Homo sapiens: one gene and its partners. The protein of the gene in region 1 interacts with the protein of each later gene in a biochemical or structural test. Each region holds a gene or a part of one and is shown in the gene's direction. Other genes may lie near its edges.

Region 1 (3,500 bases):
AGGGCCCAGGACGCTTTGACACTTTGACCACTCGTGAGAACCCCCAAGATGTTGATGTATTTGATGACATTGACTATATTAGAAATTAGAGGAATGTGGCCCGGCACAGTGGCTCATGCCTGTAATCCCAGCACTTTGGGAGGCCAAGACGGGCGGATCACGAGGTCAGGAGATCGAGACCATCCTGGCTAACACGATGAAACCCCGTCTCTACTAAAAATACAAAAACAAAATTAGCCAGGCATGGTGGCGGGCGCCTGTAGTCCCAGCTACTCGGGAGGCTGAGACAGGAGAATGGCGTGAACCCAGGAGGCGGAGCTTGCAGTGAGCGGAGTTTGCGCCACTGCACTCCAGCCTGGATGACAGAGCGAGACTCCGTCTCAAAAAAAAAAAAAAAAGAGAGAGAGGAATGGTTTATTTATTTATTTATTTTGAGACCGGGTCTTGCTGTGTCATCCAGGCAGGACTGCTGCCTCAGTCTCCTGGGCTCAAGCAGTCCTCTTGCCTCAGCCTCTGGAGTAGCTGGAACTATAAGCGCATGCCCCCTGCCCAGTTAAATTTTTTTTTTTTTTGAGACAGAGTATCACTTTGTCGCCCAGGCTGGAGTGCAGTGGCGCGGACTCGGCTCACTGCAAGCTCCGCCTCCCATCCCGGGTTCACGGCATTCTCCTGCCTCAAGCCTCCGGAGTAGCTGGGACTACAGGCGCCTGCCACCACGCCCGGCTAATTTTTTTGTTGTTGTTGCTATTTTTTAGTAGAGACGGGGTTTCACCGTGTTAGCCAGGATGGTCTCGATCTCCTGACCTCATGATCTGCCCGCCTCGGCCTCCCAAAGTGCTGGGATTACAGGCATGAGCCACTGTGCCCGGCCAAATTTTTTTATCTTTAGTAGAGATGAGGTCTCACTGTGTTGCCCAGGCTGGTCTTGAATTCCTGAGCTCAAGTGATCCACCTGCCTCGGCCTCTCAAAGTGCTGGGATTACAGGCATGAGCGACATTGGAAAGTTATTAATTGGTTCACTTAAAAAGAATAAACCTTGGCCGGGTGTGGTGGCTCATACCTGTAATCCCAGCACTCTGGGAGGCCGAGGTGGGTGGATCACCTGAGGTCAGGAGTTTGAGACCAGACTGGCCAACATGGTGAAACCCTGTCTCTACTAAAGATACAAAAAGTAGCTGGGCATGGTGGTCCACGCCTGTAATCCCAGCTACTCAGAAGACTGAGGTACGAGAATTGCTTGAACCTGGAGGCAGAGGTCGCAGTGAGCCTTGATTGCGCCACTGCACTCCAGCCTGGGCGACAACAGCTAAACTCCATCTCAAAAAATAAAAATAATAATATAACTGGCCATGCACAGTGGCTCATTCCTGTAATCCCAGCACTTAGTGAGAAGACCGGCATTGTTTTGTTTTGTAAATCTCTTTAATAGAAGATGGCTGCACTCTCACATCTGCCTCTGCAGTCTATCGATGTTACGTTGTTTAGGAAGAACATGTGGAATCACCTAGGTAGGCGATTGGGAAAGGGAGGAGTGTTTGTAACCTTGAGGGCAGCGTGGGTGTCCTTCTGCGACGCCGCCCAAGCGTGCCAGGCAGTGGTGGTCCTGCAGGCCGGCTCCTCTGGCCCTGTGAGGGACTCGCTACCCACTGTGCTTGGGCAGCACTGTGTGTTGGTCATTTGGAAAATGCTGGGTCTCTGAGTTGTGCTCGTCTTCCAGTTGTGGACACTTCTCATTCCACAATACCAAAAAAAATCACATTTGCTGTCATCATCTATTTCATCTGCAGAAGCTGAGTGGAAATCAGCATGTTCATGTGGCAGCCTCACATTTTTCAAAATTCTGTCTTTTACTTGAAAGCTGGAATTTTCCCGTTGGCAACAAATACTCCAGTAATTTTTCTTGACACAATAGGCTTAGTTCATTCACTTGGGAGAAAACTGTTGCCAGATACCCAGCTTTGCATAACCATAGTTGGACTGTCAGTTGTTATTTCAGGGAAAAACGCTATTCCATGAGAAAACAGTCAACTTGCAGCTCTCATGGTTCTATTCATGGTCCTTGAGACACAGACAGCCACCGCCACAGTCCCGGACACAGCAGGGAAGGCTCATGTGTCTTCCCACTTTTTTTTTTTTTTTTTTTTTTTTTTTTTTTGAGACAGAGTCTCGCTCTGTCGCGAGACTGGAGTGCAGTGGCACAATCTCGGCTCACTGCAACCCCTGCCTCCCAGGTTCAAGCGATTCTCCTGCCTCAGCCTCCCGAGTAGCTGGGATTACAGGTGCCTGCCACCAAGCCCAGCTAATTTTTCTATTTTTAGTAGAGACAGGGTTTCACCATGTTGGCCAGGATGGTCTTGATCTCTTGACCTCGTGATCCGCCCACCTTAGCCTCCCAAAGTGCTGGAATTACAGGTGTGAGCCACCATGCCCGGCCATATTCCCCACTTTTGACTTAAATTTTTATCATTTTTTCTTAATAGACACGGGGTCTCACTGTCTTTCCCAGGCTGGTCTCAAACTCCTGATCTCAGTCTTCCCGTCTCAACCTCCCAAAGTGCTGGGATTACAGGCATGAGCCACTGCCCTCTTTTCCATTTTTGTCACACACAATATAAAAAAATGTATACTCTGGTTGAGATTTACTATACTCAGTATACGTCAATTACAGTATACATCAGTACCTTAACTGCTTTATCAAGGACAGATGTCTTTAAGGGAAATTGGCTGTTTTTATTTAAAAAGGTGAGTGTGGTGGTGAAGATACCGTCTTATTTAGAGATCTTCCTGATGCCAGGCTTAGGGGGATTGCCAGTCCCACCAGGTACGCAGTGCCCTGCGGCAGGTGCCCAGTGCTGGCTCCGGACCAGTGGGCTGAGCTGGCAGCTGCAAGAACCTTTCCCTCCTTGGGGGTTAGGGGGATGACCGGTTCCTGGGGAGGTCACTCTGTGTGGGTGGGGCTGTTGTCCAGGAGCAGTGTTTTTGCTGTGCTCAAGGCACACGTCCTCCCTCCTTCCTCTATAGTGACCAGCAAAACAAGTAACATCAGAGCTAACTTTGAAAACCTCGCTAAGGAGAAAGAGCAGGAGGACAGGCGGAAGGCGGAGGCGGAGAGAGCCCAGCGGATGGCCAAGGAGCGGCAGGAGCAGGAAGAGGCCAGGAGGAAGCTGGAGGTGAGTGGCAAGGAGTGGGCCGCAGCGCACCCTCCCTGGGACCTGTGCCGAGGGGATTGGGAGCTCTGGGGCCTGGGCGGGGCTTATTCTCTCCTGGCCAGGTTTTCCTTGGAAGGCATGTTTAACTCTCCTTTAAGGCTCTCCATTAAGGCACTTGTCACTTGCAGCCACACATAGGCTGAGTCTCTGGCCACAATGCTCCAGGCAGCCGGCTAGCGCTATCCTGGTCTTGCCGGTCCAGCCCCAGGACCCGCCAACCTGCCCTGCCCTCTGTCCCTGAGCTGACGGCAGAGTCTTGTCGGCTTCCACCTCCACGGGGCTCCTGTCCA
Region 2 (3,500 bases), on another chromosome or scaffold:
TTTTTTTTTTTGAGACAGAGTCTCGCTCTGTCACCCAGGCTGGAGTGCAGTGGCGTGGCTCACTGCAATCTCTGCCTCTCCAGTTCAAGCGTTTCTTCTGCCTCAGCCTCCCGAGTAGCTGGGGCTACAGGTGTGCGCCACCACACCCCGCTAATTTTTGTAGTTTTAGTAGAGATGGGGTTTCACCATGTTGGCTGGGCTGGTCTCAAACTCCTGACCTCAGGCATGAGTCACCACACCTGGCCTGCTCTGTTACTCTATGAGCATATAAGAATTATTTTAGGAGAGCTGCTACTTAAAAAAAAAAAAAAAATTAACTAGAATCCTAATTGTCATCATTTAGTTGTGACCTTTAGCTGTCACATCCCCAGTCTTTTTGGTATCTTTTTGTTCTTAGCCTCTTATTATTGATCCTGTTTCTTTGCTTGTTGACTTGAGGTTGGGTACCTACATAAAACTATTTATGTCAGTTTCCTTGATATGGTCCTGTCCTTTTTTACCTTGAGCAAGTGAAAGTTTAATGTGGTTTTTCTTACTAGTAATAAGAATATAAGTTAGGATTTTATGTCCAACTTCCTAATTTTAAAACCTCTTTCTTGTGACTTTGAACTTTCCTAAAACAAACATATGATTAGTTTATGTCAGAGCATAGTAATTTTTATGGTAATAAGTGGTTTTCTAAATATATTGAAAGATGAAATGTATACTGGAAGAGTCAGAAAGACCATTTAGGGTTTAGATAGCCTTTATTATTTATAATACTAAGTAGTCTCAAACTTACCTATTAATAGATATATTCAAATATATCTATTTCTATATTCAAATATATCTATTTTATATTCAAATATGTCTATTTTCTTGAGATTACCTGATTCTAAAGCTGAACATCTGAGAACCTAATTAATCTCTGACAAACTGGTACAGTCTTTTCAAAATGTGACCATTATTGAGCAAATGATTAGTTAGGAGGTCTAACCTAATGGAAATAATGTGTCTTCTTGTTTCTGTTACTTTTAAACTTTTAATGTGTCTTGTTTCTGATACTTTTAAACTTTTATTATGTATTTAAGTTTCTTTAGTGTTTTGTGTTTGAAACCTGTTATTTTTGGAACTTAGTATTATGTTTGAAAATCACTTATAAAAACAGTGGAGTTCATTAAAAGGAATAATAATATCACAATCAATTTACACTTAAAATGCTTGACTGAGCTTCCAGCTTTTTGTTTATTCTAGGAACTATCGTGAGCATAGGTGACCCTAAGAAAAAATATACAAGATATGAAAAAATTGGACAAGGGTAAGTATTTGTGACTGTATTACGATAATATTCAGTATTCAGTATTTCCTGGCTTTATAGCATGATGTTTATTTTGCCTGCCGACATCAAGTACTTATATAGTATTCTGTGAGTGGTACCCTTGGGGGATTTGTGTAAATAAATAATGCAGTTATTTGTAGATGCTGTTAAAAAACTGTACTAGTTGTTAGCAATGACTGTGTATCATTATTTTTTCTTAAGTGTCATTTCCCATCTGTGATAATTAGAGGGAAGAATTGCCCATAAAATATATTTAAAAGACAATAAGAATATTTACTGCATGACTATAAGCAATAAAAAATGCATTTAAATCATGTCATTGTGTATTGACTTTTGAGTCTACTGATCTTCTGATTTTGTTGTGTAATTTGTATTTTTAAAGTATACTAACTAAACTCCTTTTTTCTGTTGCTTGGAAGCAAATAAACACCTAAATTTTTAATGTTATTAAACTCTGGAAAGCATTCTGTGAATTTAGAGTGAGGGCTTAAGCCATTTTTGAAAACTTCCATATGAATTCCTTCCTCCCTTCCTTCCCTTCCCTCCCTCCCTTCCCTTCCCTTCCTTCCCTCCCTCCCCTCCCTCCCTTCCTTCCCTTCCCTCCCTTCCCTCCCTTCCCTCCCTCCCTTCCTTCCCTTCCTTTCCTTCCTTCCCTTCCCTCCCTTCCCTCCCTTCCTTCCCTCCCTTCCCTTCCTTCTCTTCCTTCCTTCCCTTTTTTTTTTTTTTTTTTTTTGGCGGAGTCTGTCACTCAGGCTGGAGTGCAGTGACATAATCTCAGCTCACTGCAACCTCTGCCTCCCGGGTTCAAACGATTCTTCTGCCTCAGCCTCCCAAAGTGTTGGGATTACAGGTGTGAGCCACTGCACCAGGCCTGAATTTCTTCCTAACAGCTAAATTCAATTGCAGCACTGGTTTTATGAAAGAGAATTGAAGATTATCTTACTATTTTTGAGCATGAATGAACAAGCAATACCTATCCATATGGATGACCATCACAAATCCAGTGTTGAGTCACAAAAGCAAGTTGCAGAATAATATGTGAAATGAAACTATATGACGTTTAAAAATTAGACAAAGTATATTTTATAGGGATACATATCTGCGTCCTTTGTAGTTAAAAGTATGGAGAAATGCATGAAAATGATGAACACCAAATACAGGATAAACACCAAATACAGATCACCTTTGGGAGGAAGGAGACTGCTGTCGGAAAGGGCTTATGGGAATCTTCAAATTATTTACAGTTATTTGTATCTTAATCAGGGAAGTGTATCCTTAAGTATATGTTATATAATTTTTTTCCTGCTCTTTTTTCCCTACATTTTTGTAGGTCTGAAATATTTCACACATAAGTTTTGCCGTAAGGATTGTCTCTTTCTTCCCCCACCCCCTTTCCTCAGGTTTTTGCTTTTACTCCTTTTAAGCACGTTAGGTCATCCTGTTCTTTAATTCTTTTTCAATTGCTTGAAGTGTAAAGTCTTTGGATATTGCAAATGCTAGTGATTTATCAACCTTAAATCTGGTTGTGTGTTTTCTCCCTCTAGGGCTTCTGGTACAGTTTTCACTGCTACTGACGTTGCACTGGGACAGGAGGTAGTTACTTTGTTGTAATCCTGGGTGTTACCATTATTTTGTCATATAGGTGGAAACTAGATGAAGCTGGGAAGAAGCAATAGGAACCTCTTTTAAGTTGAGCCCGTTGTAAGAATCGCTCTACGTATGTTTATAGCACTTCTGTCAGTAAGGCGGGGAAGGACTTATGAGTTCAATGTCATAAATAAGCAAATACTTAAAAATTGTTTCCTCAGCTTGAAGTGAAAAGAGGATTAATTCTTAGTATTGGACTGACTGTGGGTGTATTAATCAACTTCAAGATAAATCTAAAACTAGGTTCTAAACATTACAAAGCATTGTGCACAGGCAGTGTGCAAGGCAAGGTGCCACCTGGGAGTAATAGCATGGTGTAATACAGTACACGTACCGTGAGTTATCAACTGCTTGGGGTTTGTAATTTTCTAAGAGAATTCCTAAACCTGGTTTTTTTCAATCCTGTTTTCATTATAGGTTGCTATCAAACAAATTAATTTACAGAAACAGCCAAAGAAGGAACTGATCATTAACGAGATTCTGGTGATGAAAGAATTGAAAAATCCCAACATCGTTAACTTTTTGGACAGGTAAG
Region 3 (3,500 bases), on another chromosome or scaffold:
ACTGTACGAAAAGAATATATCACTGCAAAGTATGTAGATCATAGGTTTTCAAGGAAGACCTGTTCAACTTCATCAGCTAAACTAAATGAATTGCTTGAGGCCATCAAATCCAGGGATTTACTTGCACTAATTCAAGTCTATGCAGAAGGGGTAGAGCTAATGGAACCACTGCTGGAACCTGGGCAGGTAAGGCCTCACTAAAATCATTGGATAAAAAGTAATGTGGAAAATCAGTTTAAAAGGTGACTTATTTTAACATTATACCATATAATGAGATTCTTATACATTGGGTGGCCATGTCTAAATCAAGAGAATATGAGAGTGAAGAGGTGTGCTCCTTATAATTACTTGGGGGCAACTGATATATATGAAGCCTCCCTTGGCAGAGCATATTATTGACTTACTTATACTTTTCTTTCCCTTTTTAGGAGCTTGGGGAGACAGCCCTTCACCTTGCCGTCCGAACTGCAGATCAGACATCTCTCCATTTGGTTGACTTCCTTGTACAAAACTGGTATCGTTTTTGTTTTCTCTGTTGAATTACCTGAATATGCCTTATAAATTAACACAAACCAGTCCTATCAGTGGCCTAGATCGGGAATTGGCAAGCTTTTTCTGTGTCATGCTAGATATAAAAATTATTTTTGGCTTTGCAGGCATGAAGTCTCTCTGTCAGAGCTATTCACTTCTGCCATGGTAGTGTGAAAGCAGCCACTGACAATGTGTAAACAAGCAAGTGTGGCTGTATTCCAATGAAACTTTATTATTTTGTTTATAAAAACAGACAGTGAACCAGATATGGCCTACAGGCTGTAGTTTGCCATCTCTTGGCCTTTATAAATGTAAAATTATGTCTGTATCCAAAAATCTGCTGCACAGATTGGACACATTTGCTAACCGTTAGGAGAGGTTAAAAGAGAGAAGACTTAACAGCACAGGTCAACCATATTTGTGAGTTTTCATTGTTCCTAAATTTAATATAAGACAGCAGCAGTGTGTGTGGCTGGATCAATAGCTCATTCAAGTTTGGGATATACTGATGGAAGTATAAGAGTGAATATAGGAAGTTTGGACTTGCTGGATTCTTTATTCTCTTTATCTGTTCTGTAAGCAACAGATGATGAGGAGGAACTAGAGCTCATCTAAAGAAGAAGATCAAAATAGTGAGGGGATTTGAACCCATAGAGGAAAAATGGTACATAGACACAAGCCAAATTGTATAAAAGTCCAGGTTTCTTCCTCAGAGACAATATAGCATAGTGGCTCAAAACATTGGCTCCAGAGATAGATTACCTGTGTTCAAATATCCCTGCTTCACCATCCCTATCTTGAAAATCTTGAAAGCAAGCACTTCAGCCTCTCTGCGCTTCAGGGTTTTTTATCTGTAAAAGCGGTTATTATTAGTATTTACCCCATCATATAGTTGTAAAGATTCAATGAACTAATACATGTAAATGTTAAGAAACAGTGTCTGTCCCATAGGACCTGGCACTCTAAATAAATACTGCCTGTTATCACTGTATTGCTTATAAATCTAGGTTAGAAACATCATAATTTTCTCTATTATAATAATTAGGTCTCAAATTTGACTCAGTTGTCAGCACAAAAATAAGTGGCTAATCTATAGTTTTAAGTTATAAAGTAAGTCATTTTTTTCTAATCATCATCTAATTTTTCAGTGGGAACCTGGATAAGCAGACGGCCCTGGGAAACACAGTTCTACACTACTGTAGTATGTACAGTAAACCTGAGTGTTTGAAGCTTTTGCTCAGGAGCAAGCCCACTGTGGATATAGGTAAGAGTGTGTCTAGTGTCTTCATGACTGTAGTAAGCGTGTGTTGCATGGTACATTGTAATTTGATTATTGTTCCTTGCCTTCTTAAGGTGTTTCCTAGATAATTATGCAAATTAATTTTTTTCCTATTTCAGTTAACCAGGCTGGAGAAACTGCCCTAGACATAGCAAAGAGACTAAAAGCTACCCAGTGTGAAGATCTGGTAAGCAAAAATGGACGTGGGAGATTTATTAGACATTGGCTGCCTTAAAAGTGTCATTCTGAGAAGCTAGAATTGAATATTAAAAATGCAGATTCATTTTTTTTTAACACTTGCTAAAGAAAATCAGATGAGCAATGTGCTACATTAGAAAAAGTGGTAAAATGATAAATTTGTCATCCACATGTTTTTGGAATGCAGTTAAAGGAGGTGAAAGGCATTACACAAGTATTATTACCAGATCGACTTGTGCATTGAGGTCATGCTTTTTATTTCCCAGACCATTAGACTTTCTCTGCAGCTTAATAGTAAAGAATTATTTGAGAAGCTGCTCCAAAAATTGGGCAAGTAAAGCTCAGAGAGTAGTGGTCTTCAAAATGTTAACACACTGTTCTCCCAGCCCCTCCCCTTCCTGTGCACATTCACCTTTTTTGACCCTACTAGTTCTTGCTTAGCAAGTCAGGGCCTTCACATTAGTGTGATTCTCTTGAGTTTCTGCTAAGTGCCAGGTTCCAGGCCCACCAGTTGGGCCTTTTTATTCTTAAAAGAATCCTTTGAGACAATTATCCCTGCTCCCATTTTATGAATGAGAAAATGGGGCCACAGATTGGACTGGGACCTTAAAAGCCTACGTCTTAAACTTCAAAGACTCGTTTTGCCTTTCAGCCAGGAATTTGCAAGTTTGAGGCCCATTTAATAAGAAGAAAGCTTTTAATTTTGGAGACAAGTCATCAAAATAAAGAAGGCTCTGCCTGCAATTGTTTGCATTTCTTCTTGAGCCTGTCACATAGCAGTGCAGCTTGTCTAAGCAGAGTGTTGCCTATAGTACACCTACAGATGATTCATTGAAAACTAGGAATAAGGTGGGATTTGCTCAGTGTTTGTATAATATTGGGATGTTTCAGCATTTAAATTAAAATGGTGCACATTTGCTGTTCCTTCCAGCTTTCCCAGGCTAAATCTGGAAAGTTCAATCCACACGTCCACGTAGAATATGAGTGGAATCTTCGACAGGAGGAGATAGATGAGAGCGATGATGATCTGGATGACAAAGTGAGTGTAAATTATGTCCTCGAATTCTCAACAACTACCCCAACTTTTCTAGTCTGTGTAGACAAGATCCATTTTTGGTGAGATTGATTGATTGTGGTTTTATGATCCAATGTATCAGGGCCATTTATGTTGTTCAGTCCTTATTGGGCACCATTTAACAGCTATATTAAGGTTGTCCAGAGAAACAGAGCCAACAGGATAGGGAGAGAGACAGAGAAATTTTTTTTAAGGAATTGGCTCACATGATTGAAGGAGCTGTCAAGTTCAAAATGCACAGGGCAGGCCAGCAGGCTGGAAATCCCAGCAGGAGTTAATGTTGCAGTCTTCAGGCTAAAGACAGTCTGGAGGCAGCATTCCTTACCCTTTGGGGGACCTCAGTCTTTTTAAGGCCTTTCTTTGGCTGATTAGGTGAGGCACACCCACATCATGAAGGGTAGTTCCCTTGACTCGAAA
Region 4 (2,722 bases), on another chromosome or scaffold:
TACACTCTTAGAGTCCCAAAAATTCCCCTTTAAAAAAAATGCTGTCCTACAGAAGGTGTATAAACTATACCTTAGCCATAATTCAATTTAATGAAATACTACCCCATTAAAAGCCATCCTCCTGCCTCATACCGATTCAGAAATTAAATTCTGAACTTTTAGTGTAGGCATTAGGAATCACTTAGCCACTTAATAAGGACTGAGATTCTTGGGTGGCAGAAAAATCCTGGTGTGCTAGATTCTTAGTCACTTTAAACTGCATAGAAGTAATGAGCATAGGCTTCAGTATATTTAATAAGGTGCTGAGGCAGCAGATTCAAATGCAAAAGAGGGAGGAACCAGTTATTCCAAGGCAGGATGATGCACCCCCACACAGAGTGTGGAAAAATTAAAGTGAAACAAAGATTTGGACAGTGTCATTAGGAAGCCTGAGGAGAACATGCTACAAGGCCAGATCCTGTCCTATGGAAAATAAAAAAGATCAGCAGAACTAAAGCAAAAGCAGTCATCTCCAGTGTGTGGGCCTTAGCAAAGAGTAAACCAAATACCTCTCCTTGTGTTAGGAGCACTGTTATATTCCCAGCTCAGAGATGATTGTGTGCTGGGAAATGCTTATATTCATTATTTCCCAACTAATGCATTTGGACATATGTATTCCAGTTTTTCAAAGACACTACCCAAAGCTTCTTTACATTTGCATTGGTTATATTTAATATTTCTTAAGCTAAGATCACTGATTATCCACACGTTATTAGAAATCTTTGGTTACAGTGAGGCTTAACCTGGGCTAAAGTCTCCTAAATGGGACTACACTTAGATCCGCCCTATTTCACCTTTGGACTAACGTTGACTAAATGGCTCCTAGAGTTACCCACAGAGGGAGCTTACTATGATGAGAGCTACTGTGGGGAAACATAGTATTCAACAGAGAAATGGAAGAATACAAGTAGCAATGTTCCTTGTCTTCAATAACATTTGAGGGAAAGGAATCTAGAAATCCTAAAGCTTAGTCAGGGTGCCTAAGGTAAGACACAAAAAGAAAGAGACATCCAGAAAGGAAGGTTGAAAGGAAATGAAGGGCAGTAACAAAGCACCAATGTAAAATGACCCATAGCCAACAATAAATGCAATAACAATAAAGGAAACTAACCCTCACAAAGGGTTTGAGGAGCTTCCTGCTGTGTGTCCTTAAACAGTGCGTGCCTCTTAAGTCTCTACAACACTTTTTTAAAGGGCATTGAATTGGACATTGGTTTAATTTTTACCTACGCTCCCTATAATCTCAGGAGGTAACCATTATTTAATCAGAATTACCCTTGCTCTGTTTATCTGTGAGGCCTCAGACACAACGGTGGTTCAGCCCTCTCCCTAAGCAGTAGCAAGCTGAGTAATGGCACACATATGTCTAGGATAGCCAGCATTCAGGAAAATTGCTGTGAACCTCCTGTTTTTAATTTTAATATAGAAAAAGTCTTTCAGGTTTGTGACACGAAGACAGATTTAGCTTCCCACTTGTCAGCAAATTTGTAAAAACCTCAAAACAAATGAATATTTGGAATTCACTCTAAGAGATACAAATCCTGAATTTCTAACTATCTTCTCAAATATTACTGAGGCCAGCAAGATGCAAGTGTTCTACAAAATAATGAACTGTTCTAAGTGACAGTGTTGATGCTGGAAGTGGAATGTTATGTTTTCGCTCAGCTGTATTCATTCAGAAAGTTTTTCTTGAACATCTGCCACATGAGGTGCAGAGAATACTACCAGGTGCTAGTTTTTCCAGTATTTGACTTCTGATTACTATTTCCTTTTCTCATCTTTAGTTTTTCAAGATTTTGCTTTACCAAAATAGTAAAGCCTTTATCATCAGCTTATATTGAATAATGTTGTAATTGGTTTCAATCAAAGTTTCTCCTCAGGTACTTGGGGGCCCCTAGCCTTCTAAGGAACTCCCAGGCACCTACTTAACAAGGCCAGCTACACACTCAGTATGTGATAAGCCCCATGATGGATGCAGGTTAGAATTCAAAGACCTGGTTGGAGTCCTAGATGTGGAGACAGGATGATCAGGTCACACTTGTTAGATGACTAACACTATCAGTAGAAGCTCTTGAGAGATTTTCCTAACGCAGCAAGATTTCTGTGAGTAGAGGTATCCTGGGAGGTATCCTGGGAGGCAGCCTATTGACTTGACCAAGTAAGCTGATCAGGTGGCCTCCTCTACCCACTAAAGAAATGTGTAAACACTAGCAATAATTGCTTTATCTTAAACTCCTGGACATACTCAGTTCTTCCATTCCACTGTTCTATTGCCAATACCTTTTGTTGTTTTCTTCACACTCCTCTTGGCAGCAAATGTCTGAAAGTATTTCAATTGTGTAATGTTAAGGAGTTTTTTCATAGCTTCAGAAAAGAGGGCAGCAAATATGAAGCCTTAAGTTCAAAATAAGTCATTCTACCTAGAAATACAGACCCCAGAGCACATTGCATGAAAATACCTGTACTCTGCAGTTCCTCAAAGCAGTATTCTTCCTGAAAAGCCAAACACCACACCTATTTTCCTATTTGCTAAGAATCAGAATAAGCACGTTGTAAATAGTATCCAAAGCAGATTCTAAAATGACATAGTAAGAAGCCAGATTCAAATTGTAACCAAAGAAGACAATAGAAATCCCACTTTACCCCACTGTCATCAGTTAGAACACCCTTGCAAAAACTGTAA
Region 5 (3,500 bases), on another chromosome or scaffold:
GTTTTCTTTAGCAATAGCTCTTTCAAAATCTTGCTCTCAGGACTGAAAAGTGATAGATAGTACCTGGATTATCAGATAATGCCCTTGACTTCTGGGGGCTCATTCACAGTCTCTGTAGTTTCTTCTTCTTCCCACGTGTTCACATGACTCCTGTCCTCTTGAGATCTGACCTCCTTCTGGAATGGACACATATGCTAAGATGCAGTGTATGCACAAGGAAGGCCTGTGAGAGGGCTTTGTCACTTTGTCTCCTTCCTGTGTGCACCTCTCTGTCTCCATGTGTGTCTCTGTCCCCTCTCCCTCTGTCTCCCCATTTCTGCCTGCTGTCATACAGCATCCTTACAACCTCTAGGCATGAAAATCCTAAGTTTGTGTGACCTTTTCAGCCCATTTTGTTGACTTTCCCTCAGTCTGGCAGATGTAATGGAAGCCTACACGAAAGCACTTCCCAATAGATAAGAATAAAGCATCCTGAGCCATTACAGAAGATCATTTCCATGCACTAAAAGCCATTACTTGATCCTTTTGCTTCCCCTTCTCCCTTCCCCAGGGAGACGGATGCTGAGGGAATGTGGCCTGGAGGTTTGCACTTGGGATCAGTAGCCTGGGCAGATTTGGGAATTGCCCTCTGACTCTCTTTCAAAATAAGCTGACTTGCTCAACCAAAGGGACTCCGTGAGAGCTGCAGAAGGAAGCAGGTTCTTGTGGGTTTCAGTAGAAGTCTACAGGGATAGAAGTTTGGGTGGTTAGGGCATGACATTAGTGAAATAAAGACTCTACCACCCGCTAGAGTGTGCAGCTGCACAAATATTTGCACACATAGCCAGGGGCTTCAGAAGAGTCCCCTTTCCTAACATCTGTGAGCTTAAATGTTCAGACTGGACAATCAGGGAAGGCTGGCAACCCCAGGGTCCCATTCCATCCTTTTTTGATCTACCTTGCTCTATACACATATGTACAGCAAAACCTCAGTTAACTGATGGGGAAACCTCAGGGACAGGAACATCCTGATTGCTTTGCAATTTTGGTTATTTGAGTGGGAATGGGAAAGCATGTCTGGTTCAACCTTTGTTATTGAGAAAAATATTTCCTAAGTAGGTTAGCATAACTTTCCTGCCTTAGTTAAGTAGAGTGTTTGAAGATAACAGGGACCTTGCCTTGCTCAGGGTCAACATTGTAAACCTCAATGCTTATTGTACAGTAGTGGACATAGGTAGAGAAGACCAAAGAGACAGGCTGAATGGCTGCTGGCTACAAGACAGGCCTGGAAATGGGCCACTGGGGCACATCCTGGCTCATCGGAGCCCTTGCTGTCATTTGCCTCTTTCTACTGAAAGGATAGTAAGAAAACATAATTCTTGTCAATCGAGGTTTTGGTTAATTGGTCCTGAGTTTTTAGAGGTTTTCCATATATACATATATTTATGTGTGTATATATATATATATAGTATATGTATATATGTATACTATTTTTAAATTATAGAATTATACATTGACCAATCTCCTTAGTTTCACTTATGTGGAATAAATTTGGCAATCCAAGGAATAAACTGCATTTATGTGCATTTTTTGAATGACCTCCTTTGCATTCTTTTCACCTCTCCAGTTCTACTCTTTTTTTTTCTGCTTAGGGACCTCTCTAGAAGGCAGATCTTTCATAAAAAAAGAACAGGCTACAGGATCACCTCTTTCCTTTCCCTCCCAGGTGGCTGCCTGACTCAGGGATAAAAGGGAAGTCTGATCTAACAGCCAGGTGCTTTAGCCTTTCTTCTGTCTGCCCTGGTTGGCTATAACCTCATCACTGAGGATCAGAAAAGTTATTCCAAACTTTGTACTCGAGGGGAGTGGAAAGCTTGAAGACCTGGCAAAGGATTTATCTATTTAGCATTCTCTTTGTCATTGGTGGTGCCCTAGGTTTGAGGTTTGTGAGATCTGAAAGTAACATTCCAATGAAGAACTAAAGCACATCTCTGCCACACAGAAGGTGAGGTTTGTGGCAATCAATGGAACTAACAAATCCATTCTGTTTTTTATTATGACTAAACCTAAGTTGAGGGTGTGGGTATTAGAGCAGCTGAAATTCAGTTGCCTCTTTGGGGGTAAGCTGTACACATCACTCAAGAAACAGCTGGATGCAAGCTAAAACCTGCTCTCATTCTCCCTCTTGCCTGCTAGTGTGTTAGATCCATGGAAGACAGTTTCTCTCAGCCTCACCTCTTGCATTTGACTGTTGCTTTCTACCTAGATGGGAGTGGGAGGGATTTTTCACTGTATCTGGAGCAATTGAAGTGGTGCAGGGGTGTCTGCCATCTCCCCACACCCACAGAAGCCCTCCAGTCTGGCTATGTTAGTTGTGATCAGGCAGCAGAAGCCCATAACCCAGACTTGACATGACCAGCTGGTGCACTGAGGCAGTTGAGGTGGCCTGTCTGGATGGCTACTTCTTGTACTTCATGAACCTCAGCATGGAAATGGATATAACTTTCTGTGCTCCTCTGCACTCCTAAAATAGTCTAATATGTTCCAGATGAGTTTGCAGCTGAGAACTCCCTGCATCATTCCACTGATGGATGCACAGGGCATGATTATGTAATAATGTGGACAGCTACTGCAACATCTAGATCATTGAGGGCAGTGTAGATGTGGCTGTGTGCTAGGACCCTTGGTAGCTATCCAGAGGACTCAGTCTGGTGTCTTTCTGAGTCTCTGTGAGAGGCCTCTAAGCCCTGCTTCTCCTTGAAAATGATTCCCTAGACACCGAATGCCTTGTTTGTATGAGTGAATAAATGCTCTGGGCTGCTAGAGAAAGCAATAGGAGGAGCTGGGAGGAAGAGAATATTCAGGGGCGCACTTTGCTACCAAACAATTTCCATGTCAGCTGCTAACATTACTGCCTTTTTAGCCTATGAAGTGTAGGGCAAGGACTTTGACCTGCCAGGTGGGGCTGGAAAGGAGCACATCAGCTCCAGGCTAAGAAATGGGATAGAAAAGCAAGAAGAGAGGCCTGGCTGGCTTTGGCGGGGGTGAGTCTCAGCTCCTGAGGGTTTGAACATGCTCTGTGCTTGCCCCAGTTCTGCCTTCACGTGGGATCCAGCGACCCAGTTTCCTTTTGTTGTCGTGCTTGGATGGTTCCTTCATTTGAAGGGCCCCAGGAAGCTGGAAAGTCCCATGATCAAGCTCTAGCCTGCTGAGCAAACAATACCCCAGCCAAATTGGCCTCTTCCTGGTTTTCTGCATCCCTGCACCCCTCTCTCCACTAAGGATAATCTTGGAACAGTTGCGATTAATGGTGCCAGCAATCAAGGAAGATTCTCTAGTTTTCATCAGGGACATAGCTGTAAAGCTCATGAGTGGAGGATGCTATTTCCTTTTCCAGACCTGTGTGCTTATGTGCTTATATAGGCTGCCTCTGGAGACTTTATATTGTGTGTGATGTGTGTGTATATATATATACACACACATATATATATATATGTATATATATATATAGAGAGAGAGAG
Region 6 (3,500 bases), on another chromosome or scaffold:
ATACCAGAGTGAGACAGCTGGCTGGGCCTCAGTTTGCCTCTAGGAACCCAGAAAGGAGATCAGGGCGTGGTTTCCTAGGAGCCAGATAGGAAGGAAACTTGAGAACTCAACCCCCCAGGACCTGCCTTCTGGCTCCTCCCAACTTTCCTCCTTCCCAATATCCAACCCTGACTTCATGTCCATCTCTAGGTCTTCCCTCAGTGTCCTCTGACCCCTCTGTGGACTCTGACTTTGATCCCTGCTTTCCTGGGCCACACTGGCTGACCCCCTGGGACCTTACTTCCTAGATGCTAATCTCTGACCCATCCTTCAGCTTGACCTTCCCCAGTTTTTGACCCCAGTCCCTGTGGACCTGCCCTGGCCGCATCTAGGGAGTCTGTGGACTCCTGGTTCAAATCCTGGCTTTGCACTCAAGGCAAGGTACTTCACCTCTCCAGTCTTCCTTCTCTTCATCGGTAGAATGGGGATAGTCATTTTGCCCTTAATCAATTCTAAGAGGCACATCTGTTCACATGTTAAGTCTTCTGTAGTTGGGGTATGTCATATTTAGTTAGCAGAGCTTTTTCTTTCCTAGCAGTTATAAAATACTGGGGCATCTTATGAGTGGTGGCATTTTAAATTTGATGAAGCCCTCAGATGACCCCTCCCTCATAGGGCTGGTGTGAGGGTTCAGTGAGTTAGTGTGTTGGGCGATTAGAATGCAGCCAGTGAAGGCCTATGATGGTACCCAGTGCTGGTAGTAGTAGTATTGACTCCATCATCACTCCAACTCAGATCTGGGACTCCCAGCCCTCTCCTCACCCTGGCCCCCACCCCTGAGGACCCTTTGCCCTGGTTCTACCCTGCCTCTGGGCCTTGACCTGTGCCCTCTTCTTCCACAGCTGTGATTGTGGGCGGGGTGGTGGGCGCCCTCTTTGCTGCCTTCTTGGTCACACTGCTCATCTATCGTATGAAGAAAAAGGATGAGGGCAGCTACACGCTGGAGGAACCCAAGCAGGCGAGCGTCACATACCAGAAGCCTGACAAGCAGGAGGAGTTCTATGCCTAGTGGAGCCACAGTGCCTCCCTGCAGCCTCAACACCACCCTGCTGTCCAGTCCCCAGCCTGGCCCCACCAGCCCAAGCCTGGGACTGGGCCTGGAACCTGGCCCCAGTTCTTCTCTGCCCTCTCTCCCAAGGTCTGCCCAGGCTGCCAGCCTCACACAGATCTTCCCCGAGGAAGAGGGGCTGCTGCCATCTGCCCCAGACTGTGCCCTTACGAGCTCATCTCTTGTTCCCCTCATCCCTGCCACCAGTCTGGGGCTTCAGGACCTCATGTCAGATGGATGGGAGGAAGAAAGCTCCTGATTGGCTGGTGGTGGAAGAAAGGGTGGGGCTTGAGATGAGCCTGAGCCCTGACTTGGCACCCACAGTGCTCACTGAGATCTCCTTTTTGGGGCAGAGAGGCACTCAGGCTGGTTTCCAGGACAAACATTTGGTAAACACAGCCCTTGAAATCATCTAGACACTGCAACCTCTTGCTCGTATCCCAGGGCCTCTCTCTAGCTGGGTGAGAGGGTGTCCCTTGTCACCAGCCTGTTTTGTCCTGGTCTCTCTGGGGTTGTTGAATCTCTCCTCTTGCCTGCCAAGTACACATGTACCCAGACTTCATTTCTTTCTGCATCTTCCCCCAAGAAACAGCTTCCTGAGGGTGCTGGGGCAGCCACTGGTGAGGAGGGGCTGCTCTGATGTCCCTCCTATGAGGGGACTCTGCACAGACACCATTGCCCACACTATCACCATATTTTCACTCAGTCACACACAAGACAAAAGCATGCAATGACAAAACCATACGCAATCCTGACCGCCCAGCCAATCAAGACATATCACAGAACACACGCGTCCTTCCAAGAATGTTTATCCTCATGCATCACTTACACACCCCCAGACACGTACTGCAATGCAAGTCACTAGTCATGGTCACATGACAGTGACAGTGTGGCCTCCTCCTACCCCAAATACACCCACACTCTGGCACCACACACATTGTCTCCAGCTTTCAGGCTTACTGGGGAGGGTGGAATCGAGCCAGAACAATCAGCCCATATTGGGTCCCCCTAAGTTGCCCCGTCATACTCAGTCCCATGCCATGGTGCCCACACCAACCATGCAGCCGCCAACCCCAGCCAGTGTCAGACACAATCCCATGTGGATGCACAGTCTCACTCCACATGACCTGCTCTCAATGCTGGAGGGAAACAGGCAGGCCCTTGCCTTTCTCGGAAAAAGTGTGGGGCCACAGCCCTTTTAGGGCATTGCATGCAGGTGGGCCTGGCTTCACCCCTACCTGCTTCCTCCCCACCGCAGCTGGCAGAGGGGGAGGTTTGGGGCCAGACCCCCACTAGCTGGGAGCCTGGGGGCTCCTCTAAGGCTGAGGAAGGAAATTTGGCCCCAGGTTGTTGGGGGGTCTTGGGTCTCCCAGGACGGAAGGCCCAGGGCAGGGAGGGGGCATGTGGTTGGGCTCCTTTATCTCCCTGTGTCCCCTTCCTGCTTTGAGCTAGGGGGCTGACTCTGCCTCCCAGGACACAAGTCTCCAAAGTGCCTGTGAGGGCGGGCCCTCCGCACCCTCTGCCCTCTGCCTGGCAGGCCAACCTCAGCCCACCTGCCCAGAGGCCCTCCCTGTGGACACCCCCTCACCTATTTGGCCAAACAATTCTGGCTGCAGCTTCAGGGGCCATGGCTGGAAGCAGCCCCTGCAGATCCCTCAGGCCCCGAGGTCAGGGTTTGAGGGATGAGACCAGGTGATAGTGGGGGAGGGGTTACTTCCTTTGTTACCTAGCAAGTAGGGCTATTTCCATCGGTATTTTAAATGTGGGGTCACAGATCTTTTGGGGAGGGTGTGCTTGGCAGGGGGCCTCTTGGAGCCAAAGGGATGTGGTGTGAGTTGCGATTGGCTGGCACTCACACCCCCACCCCTCACCCACATCCCAGATTCAAGTCAGGAAGGCAGGTTTTATTTCAGGGCCCTTTTCAAGATGCCCTGGCAGCAGATTTCTGCAGGATGAGGGGTAGCGGTGTGTAGGCAGTGAGGGGGAGGTTCCAGGGGCTGTCCCACAGCCTGTCTTTTCCAGGCTGGGCTCCATCTTCCAGTCCCAAAACCCTCCTTCACAGGGCCCAGAGGCTTGTGAGGAAGCCAGGTGGACCCAGCCTTAGAAGAGTGGGCATGGGGGGCCCCTGATATCTGGAGGGGGCGGGTTGGCCTCAGTCATCTTTGGAGCAGAAGGGCTGGGTCCTGGGGCCACAGACCACAAGGCTCAGCCTCCCTACCCTGCTCCCTGGGGTGCTGCTGTCTTGGAGAGCACAGCTCTGGTGAGACGGCCTGGGCAGGCCGAGGCTGAGAAACCAGGGAGGATAGAGGAGAAAAGGGCTTGGGCCCCCAGCCCCAGAAGATGCTGGACCCCAGGTGGGAGACCCAACAGTGGGTGCAGTTTCTCAGTAGGGCTGGAGCCAATGGTGGGGGTG

The links.
Region 2: of the proteins of CTTN (region 1) and PAK2, one has a biochemical effect on the other in vitro, tested with the Homo sapiens proteins (one study listed by IntAct).
Region 3: the proteins of CTTN (region 1) and ASAP1 are reported together in a solved structure, tested with the Homo sapiens proteins (one study listed by IntAct).
Region 4: of the proteins of CTTN (region 1) and FER, one has a biochemical effect on the other in vitro, tested with the Homo sapiens proteins (one study listed by BioGRID).
Region 5: the proteins of CTTN (region 1) and KCNA2 form a complex in vitro, tested with the Homo sapiens proteins (one study listed by BioGRID).
Region 6: the proteins of CTTN (region 1) and SDC3 form a complex in vitro, tested with the Homo sapiens proteins (one study listed by BioGRID).

The regions. Positions count from the first base shown.
Region 1 is NC_000011.10:70,426,029-70,429,528, forward strand, and holds part of CTTN (src substrate cortactin), read left to right. Parts: exon of another isoform or gene 1-59; intron 60-3,022; coding exon 3,023-3,171; intron 3,172-3,500.
Region 2 is NC_000003.12:196,809,357-196,812,856, forward strand, and holds part of PAK2 (serine/threonine-protein kinase PAK 2), read left to right. Parts: intron 1-1,233; coding exon 1,234-1,297; intron 1,298-2,862; coding exon 2,863-2,911; intron 2,912-3,382; coding exon 3,383-3,495; intron 3,496-3,500. UniProt on the Homo sapiens protein: Serine/threonine protein kinase that plays a role in a variety of different signaling pathways including cytoskeleton regulation, cell motility, cell cycle progression, apoptosis or proliferation.
Region 3 is NC_000008.11:130,115,175-130,118,674, reverse strand, and holds part of ASAP1 (arf-GAP with SH3 domain, ANK repeat and PH domain-containing protein 1), read left to right. Parts: coding exon 1-186; intron 187-428; coding exon 429-514; intron 515-1,679; coding exon 1,680-1,795; intron 1,796-1,929; coding exon 1,930-1,997; intron 1,998-2,660; coding exon of another isoform or gene 2,661-2,843; exon of another isoform or gene 2,844-2,861; intron 2,862-2,939; coding exon 2,940-3,047; intron 3,048-3,500. UniProt on the Homo sapiens protein: Possesses phosphatidylinositol 4,5-bisphosphate-dependent GTPase-activating protein activity for ARF1 (ADP ribosylation factor 1) and ARF5 and a lesser activity towards ARF6.
Region 4 is NC_000005.10:109,191,897-109,194,618, forward strand, and holds part of FER (tyrosine-protein kinase Fer), read left to right. Parts: 3' UTR 1-2,722. UniProt on the Homo sapiens protein: Tyrosine-protein kinase that acts downstream of cell surface receptors for growth factors and plays a role in the regulation of the actin cytoskeleton, microtubule assembly, lamellipodia formation, cell adhesion, cell migration and chemotaxis.
Region 5 is NC_000001.11:110,594,283-110,597,782, reverse strand, and holds part of KCNA2 (potassium voltage-gated channel subfamily A member 2), read left to right. Parts: 3' UTR 1-3,500. UniProt on the Homo sapiens protein: Voltage-gated potassium channel that mediates transmembrane potassium transport in excitable membranes, primarily in the brain and the central nervous system, but also in the cardiovascular system.
Region 6 is NC_000001.11:30,870,759-30,874,258, reverse strand, and holds part of SDC3 (syndecan-3), read left to right. Parts: intron 1-881; coding exon 882-1,048; 3' UTR 1,049-3,500. UniProt on the Homo sapiens protein: Cell surface proteoglycan that may bear heparan sulfate. May have a role in the organization of cell shape by affecting the actin cytoskeleton, possibly by transferring signals from the cell surface in a sugar-dependent mechanism.